2 linked regions of the Homo sapiens genome follow. The protein of the gene in region 2 interacts with the protein of the main gene of each other region in a pairwise test. Each region holds a gene or a part of one and is shown on either strand. Other genes may lie near its edges. The genes, in order: GPATCH11 and ZNF474.

What was found.
Region 1: the proteins of ZNF474 (region 2) and GPATCH11 interact in binary tests that used the Homo sapiens proteins (3 or more experiments, as listed by UniProt).

What each region holds. Positions count from the first base shown.
Region 1 is NC_000002.12:37,090,969-37,095,011, forward strand, and holds part of GPATCH11 (G patch domain-containing protein 11), read left to right. Parts: intron 1-947; coding exon 948-1,068; intron 1,069-1,172; coding exon of another isoform or gene 1,173-1,196; coding exon 1,197-1,287; intron 1,288-3,113; coding exon 3,114-3,227; intron 3,228-3,683; exon of another isoform or gene 3,684-3,792; intron 3,793-4,043.
Region 2 is NC_000005.10:122,136,046-122,139,545, forward strand, and holds part of ZNF474 (zinc finger protein 474), read left to right. Parts: intron 1-3,500.

The sequences.
Region 1 (4,043 bases), on a different chromosome or scaffold from region 2:
TTGTCCATTGAAATGTCTTAAAACTGTTTTGCTCTGGGAGGCCGATGCAGAAGGATTGCTTAAAGCCAAGAGTTGGCCGGGCGTGGTGGCTCACACCTGTAATCCCAGCACTTTGGGTGGCCGAGGCAGGCAGATCACCTGAGGTTGGGAGTTCAAGACCAGCCTGACCAACATGGAGAAACCCCATCTCTACTAAAAATACAGAATTAGCCGGGCATGGTGGTGCATGCCTGTAATCCCAGCTACTTGGGAGGCTGAGGCAGGAGAATCGCTTGAACCCAGGAGGCAGAGATTGCAGTGAGCTAAGATTGCGCCATTGCACTCCAGCCTGGGCAACAAGAGTGAAATTCCATCTCAAGGAAAAAAAAAAAAAAGCAGCCAGGAATTTGAGACCAGCCTGGGCAACATAGCAAGACCTCATCTCTGCAAAAAATTTAAAAAATTAACCGGGTGTAGTGGCACGCACCTGTAGTCCTTGCTATTCAGGAGGCTGAGGCGGGACGATTCCTGGAGCCCACAAGTTCGAGGTTACAGTGAGCCATGATTGTGCCACTACATACCAGCCTGTCCCTATAAAAATAAAATAAAATAAAAGTGTTCTGAGACAGATTTATCTACCAAATGTTTTGCTTAATACTTGGATGAATTCAAGAGAAAAAGATATATTTTATTCATATTTAAATAAAACTATAACAGCTAATACTGTTTTTCTGATTTGAAAAATTGTTTATAATATTACTATAAGATGAGATTAACAATCTTTGTAAAAATCAGATTATGTTTTGGGCTTAAAAAAAACCCTAGTGTTTTCTACTATTAGTGTACTCAAATGATTTGTGAGTGATAGTACTCAAATGAGAATTGCATTTAATTTGTACATAGTTAAATCGTCTTGTTTTGAAGCACAAAGTCAGGATGTTTCTCATCAGAATTTTCTGTTTGAATAGGGAAAAGTGGCATTGGTCATGAGGCATCATTAAAACGGAAAGCAGAGGAAAAATTGGAAAGCTACAGAAAAAAGATTCACATGAAAAACCAAGCTGAAGAAAAAGCTGCAGAACAGTTTCGGTAAAACTATTTTTGAGCTGGTTTTGGTTCTATTTCCTCTTTATTGTGGTATGTTCTCTGGTACTTGGGCATATAAAATGGTTAAAGATAACGTAGACCTTTAGTTTACAATTTTTTCTTTCAATTAGAATGCGACTTAAAAATAAGCAAGATGAAATGAAGCTAGAAGGAGATCTCAGAAGAAGCCAGCGAGCCTGTCAACAACTGGATGTCCAGAAAGTAAGCCTTTTACCAGCTTTCAGTTTAGTAAAGTGTTTTGGCACCCCCTGTGATTTCCCGTTTATTTATTATATATATATATATTTTATATATGTATTATATATATTTATATATGTATTATATGTTTATATATGTATTACATATATTTATATGTATCATATATATTTATATATTTTTTACATATGTCTTATATATTATATATATTTTATGTATTTATATATATAATATATATATTATATATATATATAAAACTAAGAACTCCAAGCCCGGTTTATCTACTCATTAAAGCTTTCATGTAATGTGCACTTCTGATCTGTGACAATTGATATAAAAATGGCTTATTATTTACTATAGTAACCTGAGTTGTCTGGGTTACTATAAAACCCAGGGTTTTATAGTAACTATAGTTTTATAGTTTTATACTAACTATAGTAAAACAAAAAGGGTTAAATAAAATTTTACATTTAATTGTTCTCTGCTTATTTGAATATCAGTTATGACTATTATGTGCAGAAATTCTGTTCTTTATAATATTTGATTAACAAGAATAGCCTATTTTCAGTTCCTATTCAGTATCTAATATATGTCTAACTATTAAAATCAGAGTGGGCCAGGCATGATGGCTCAATCCTGTAATCCTAGCACTTTGGGAGGCAAAGGCAGGATGATTATTTCAGCCCAGGAGTTCGAGACCAGCCTGGATAACATTTCAAGACTCCATCTCTACAAAACATCTTAAAATTAGCTGCATGTGGTGGCACACACCTGTAGTCCTATCTACTCAGGAGGCTGAAGTGGGAGAATCACTTGAGCCCAGAAGGTTGAGGTTGCATTGAGCTATGTTCATGCCACTGCACTCCAGCCTGGGTGACAGAGTGAGACCCTGTCTCAAAAATAAAATCAAGGTGGAATGCTATCTAGTTCAAATTTGAATAGTTTTTAAAAAATTCTGTCTCTGGCTGGGCATGGTGGCTCATGTCTGTAATCTCAGCACTTTGAGAGGACGAGGCTGCAGGATTGCTTGAGTCCAGGAGTTTGTGACCAGCCTGGACAACATAGCAAGTCCCCAGCTCTACAAAAAAAATAAATAAGTAAATAAATTCTGTCTTTGCTTTTATCTTAGTGGTTCAAGTACTCTGAAAATAAAATGACTTCATTTGAAGTCTCAAAAAGCTTTGTAAAATTTCCCTTATATATAGATTACTGGAAGCAATCTCTCACTTTCCTGTTCTTACATATTACTTTACTTTGAATGTATTTCATGGCACTTATGATTTTGTAGCATATATGTATTATTTTGTACCCATAGCCTATCTTTCCTGCTAGACTGTCAGAAGGAACTTAAAGACAACTGCACAATTCTAAAGAATTGGACTTTGCATCCCCATAGTTCATGGTACAATGTTTTCACTTTTTTTTTGAGATGGAGTCTCACTCTGTCACCAGGCTAGAGTACAGTGGCGTGATTTTGGCTCACTGCAACCTCCACCTCCTGGGTTCAAGCAATTCTCCTGCCTCGGCCTCCTGAGTAGCTGGGACGACAGGCATGCACTACCACGCCCAGCTAATTTTTGTATTTTTAGTAGAGATGGGGTTTCACCATGTTGGTCAGGATGATCTTGATCTCTTGACCTCGTGATCCACCCACCTCTCCCTCCCAAAGTGCTGGGATTGCAGGCGTGAGCCACCGTGCCCGGCCAGTGTTTTTACTCTTAAAGCCACACTCAGTGAATACGTATTGAAAGAATGAATTCATGTTGACATGAACATATTTGTCATGCTCTTATGTTTAGTATGTTTAATTGAGACTACTTCTGCATTTTCAGAATATTCAGGTTCCCAGGGAAGCATGGTACTGGTTGAGGCTTGAAGAGGAGACTGAAGAAGATGAAGAAGAAAAAGAACAGGATGAAGATGAATATAAGAGTGAAGATTTAAGCGTATGCTTTGCACCATTTCCTTCATAGGGTGTCTCAGCCTTGGCAACATTAGCACTTTGAGTTGTGGTAATCCGTTGTTGTGGAGAGCTGTCCTGTGCATTGCAAGATGTTTAGCAGCATCTCTGGCCCCTGCCCACCAGATACCAGTTGCACTTTTGCTTATGACAACCAAAACCCTCTCCAGACATTGCTAAATGTCCCCGAGGGGAAAAATAACCCCTGGTTGAGAGGTACTGCATTGCAGGATTACTTTACTAACCCCAAATCAAAACTTACATATAATTTTTCCCTTTAGCTTCCATTTGTCCTCTCATCTCAGCTTCAGTTTGGATGATGAATTAGCAACAAATGTAAATTATTTTAATTTATACCTTATTTCCTGCAAAACTTCTACAAGTCATTCTAATGTGTACTTTTTTCTCCTACTTATAAACAACAAAAAAACACAATCAAAAGAAAATGGAGGCCGGGCATGGTGGCTCACACCTGTAATCCAAACACTTTGGGAGACCAAAACTGGTGGATCACTTGAGGTCAGGAGTTTAAGACCAGCCTGGCCAACATGGTAGTGTATTTTAGTCTCTACTAAAAATACAAAAATTAGCCAGGTGTGGGGCACCCAATAATCCTAGCTACTCAGGAGGCTGAGGTAGGAGGATCACGTGAGCCCGGGAGGCAGAGGTTGCGGTGAGCCAAGATCACGCCACTGCACTCCAGCCTAGGTGATAGACCGAGACCCTGTCTCACAAAAAAAAAAAAAAAAGGAAATGGAGATTATTCAAGAAAGGAAAACACACTCGTATGCTTACTTGAGTA
Region 2 (3,500 bases):
TAGAGGGAATAAGACGTAATGTTCAGGAGCATAACAGGGCAACTATAGTTAAAAATAAGCTACTGTAAGTATTTCAAAATAATGAAAAGACTAGAATTGTGATGTTCCCAACACAAAATAATGATAAATGCTTGAGGAGGTAGATATCCCAATTACCCTCATTTGATTATTACATGTTGTATGCTTATATCAAAATATCATACCTATGCCATAAATATGTACAACTATTATGTATTCATAATAATTAAAAATTTAAAAAAGAAGATATCTGATTTCCAAGGGAAATTAAATTTTGAAAGTCATTAGCACTCAGAACATATGTGGTCAAGAAAAACAATGTATGAATAAACTTAGCTCAGGGAAGCCAAACTCTGTGATTCTCCTTCAGCTTTCTACCTAGTTAGGCAGTGCCCCCAGCACAAGTGACTAGCTGCTCGTATGGCTACCTTTGGTGTGCCTGTCTAGGTCCATTCTCTAGGGAGCAGCAGCACATCTATTCTGGTTGCTCACTACTTGATAATCTTTACCATGAGGTATAGTGCTTGGTCTAGTTCATGGTCCTTGGAGAGATTCTCATTTATCTTGGATTCAGTATAGTTATGCTTTTAAAGCTATAATATTATTATAATTCTAATTCCTTGAGATAGTATTATAAAAATGAACAAGAATTAAATGATCACATATGTGTAAGACTTGAGAAAATATTACAAAGCTGTCTGATAACACTTCTTTTCCAAAAGCCCCTTTATGTTTTTTATTCCTCATATAAATAATGAACTTCAGTTTTGTTTAAAAATTTAATATAACATCAAGCTAATCTCACTCAGCTAGGTCAACATTAAATTTATTTTGTTATGACCTACAATGTGCCTGGCACTGGGCGAGGTGCTGGTGATATAACTATGTAGAGAGCAAGTAAGTCTCTATTGTCTCGAAGTTCACATGCAATTTAAAGAGATAAATATTACACATGCAAACAAACAGACAAAAACATAGGTGCTGAGTGCTGTAAAGATGATAAACAGTGGCATCACTGAACATAACTATGATGGATGGTGATGGTGATATCAGTTCCATGAATGAACATGAATGGGCATGTGTATGTGCATGTGTATGGGTGCAGGTGGGTGTGTAAGTGTGTGTGTTTGGGACAGAGGGAAAGAAATTACTTGAAAAAGAGTAGTCAAGAGTTCAAGGCCAGCCTGGCCAACATGGGCAACAACAGTAGCCCATCTCTACTAAAAATACAAAAATTAGCCAGGCGTGGTGGCAGGTGCCTGCAATCTCAGCTACTTGGGAGGCTGAGGCAGGAGAATCGCTTGAACCTGGAGCCAGAGGTTGCAGTGAGCCGAGATTATGCCACTGCACTTCAGCCTGGGTGACAGAGTGAGACTCTGTCTCAAAAAAAAAAAAAAAAAAAAAAAAAAAAAAAGAGTAGTTAAGAAAGGCCTGAGTTGACAATATTTAAATAGAGACCTGAAGGATAAAATAAGAAAGCTAAGCAAAGAACTGGAGGAAGATTCTAGGCAATGGCAAGAGCATGTGCAAAGCCTCTTCCCAGTCCCTCCCCCAGTCTACCCCAAAGTAAGAGAGAGTTTGACTTGCCTGAGGAACTGAGAGATGAACATGGATGGAGCATGGTGCAGAAAAGGGAGAGCAAAAGGAGATAGGCAGAGACTGAGGGAGGTACCAGGTTACAGAGGGCATTCAAGGTCAAGAGGTTGGATTTTATTTTGAGAGTAGTGGGACAACCATGGAGCAGTCAGTCAGCAGAGGTTTAAGTTGTGATTGTAGCTTAAGGAGTTAAATGTGACTGCTCTGAAAAGGATAGATGAGGGTTGAGAGCGGAAGTGCCTCTTCACCTATGTGGTTGAAACAGCCCACAGATGCGAGGCGCACCCGTTCACCTGCCTGGCATTAGATTTATGAGTGCAGGCAAAACAGCCAAAAGGAATAACCAACCACTTCAATGCTAGATATGGAAATGCTTCTACATAAATTGATGTAATATCACAAGAGGTTATCCAATATCAAATGGGTAGAATGAAGACAGGAGTGAAAAATCATGGGAAAGGAGATATATTAAAATGCAAAGGCAGAAAATACTAAGATGAGAAGGGGAGCAGAAGGAAAATATAAGAAGATGATAGAATAGGATAAGATGTTTTTTTCAGCCAAATTATTAATGGGCAATCACATAGGAAACAAAAACATGCTAAATATTGTTTAGAGTGTCTGTTAGTGCCTTTTCCCTTTTCCCTCACTGTCTAATTCCTTACCTTGCATTTCACATGCAAACCCACAATAAGAGGGGGAATCTACTTGAAGAGCTGAGGCAAAGGCAAACATCCTCATGATCTTCTCAGCCTGGCCTCACCACCAATGAGACTTCTCCCAAGTTCAAAGATATGTTCAAAAGGTTATTTTAGTGAAATTATTGTGAAATGAACAAAGAACAAAACGAAGAGTAGTGAGGACTGGAAATAGAAGAAAAAGGCAATTGGGCAAAGACTCAAATCTCGAGTTTCAGTTAGACTCTCAGCCAACAATTGTCCTTATTAGTACCATATGACCTAGTTACAATCCAGCATATCATCACTAAATAAGTGTCAGATGGACTAGCATTGTGGCATGGATTAATTACTAAATGAAGATTATAACATTGATTATCAATACATCCCCTTGACCCGGAAGAAATATGGAGAGGAATGCATAAGGTCTGTGATGTATGTGTGTATGTGTGTGTGTGTATGTGTATGTGTATTCATGTGTCTGAACAATTGGAAGCAGAGTCTTCAGTGAGGTGATAATAAGTATAACTGATAAAATTCTATTTTCTTGACAATCAAGTATACATATCCTTTGAAAGAATGGAAAAATATATAATTATTTTGTGAAAGACTTTTTCCATTTTGGTTCATTTTAAAATCATAAATGTGTAATAAAAGTTAATATTTACATTCCTTGAATCAGTTCATGGCATTTCCACTCAAAAGTACTAAATGATTGTAAAACATTAAAATCAGATAAATCTTGGATTGCTTTATCTGTTCAGTTCCAAGTGAACCATCTTATATATGAAACATATGACATTTCAATCAACAAAAATTAAAACCACACTTTCCCCTTCAGTTAACCTGTTTCCAATGTAAAATACCATGTCAAACGGAGTTTAATTATTTGAACTATTGGGGCATTTATGTGTGTTAAGCAGTTTCTAAATAAAGTTTTCAACAGAGATTCCCAGAAGTAGCACAGGAATGCTGTTTTAGCTAAAATTATTTAAATTAACATTACCCATTCCTTGCCTATATGAAACAGGCTTCATTATCATTCCCTAAAAATGTAATGATCTTTCATGTAACCAAATTTATTTTATTGTCAATTTTATAACTGGAATTTTGCAGTCAACTAAAAAGGATCAAGATTTGTGACCTAAAAAATTGTCATTACTTCATGATATTTACAGGACAAACCCTAAATGTATGAATTTTCAAATA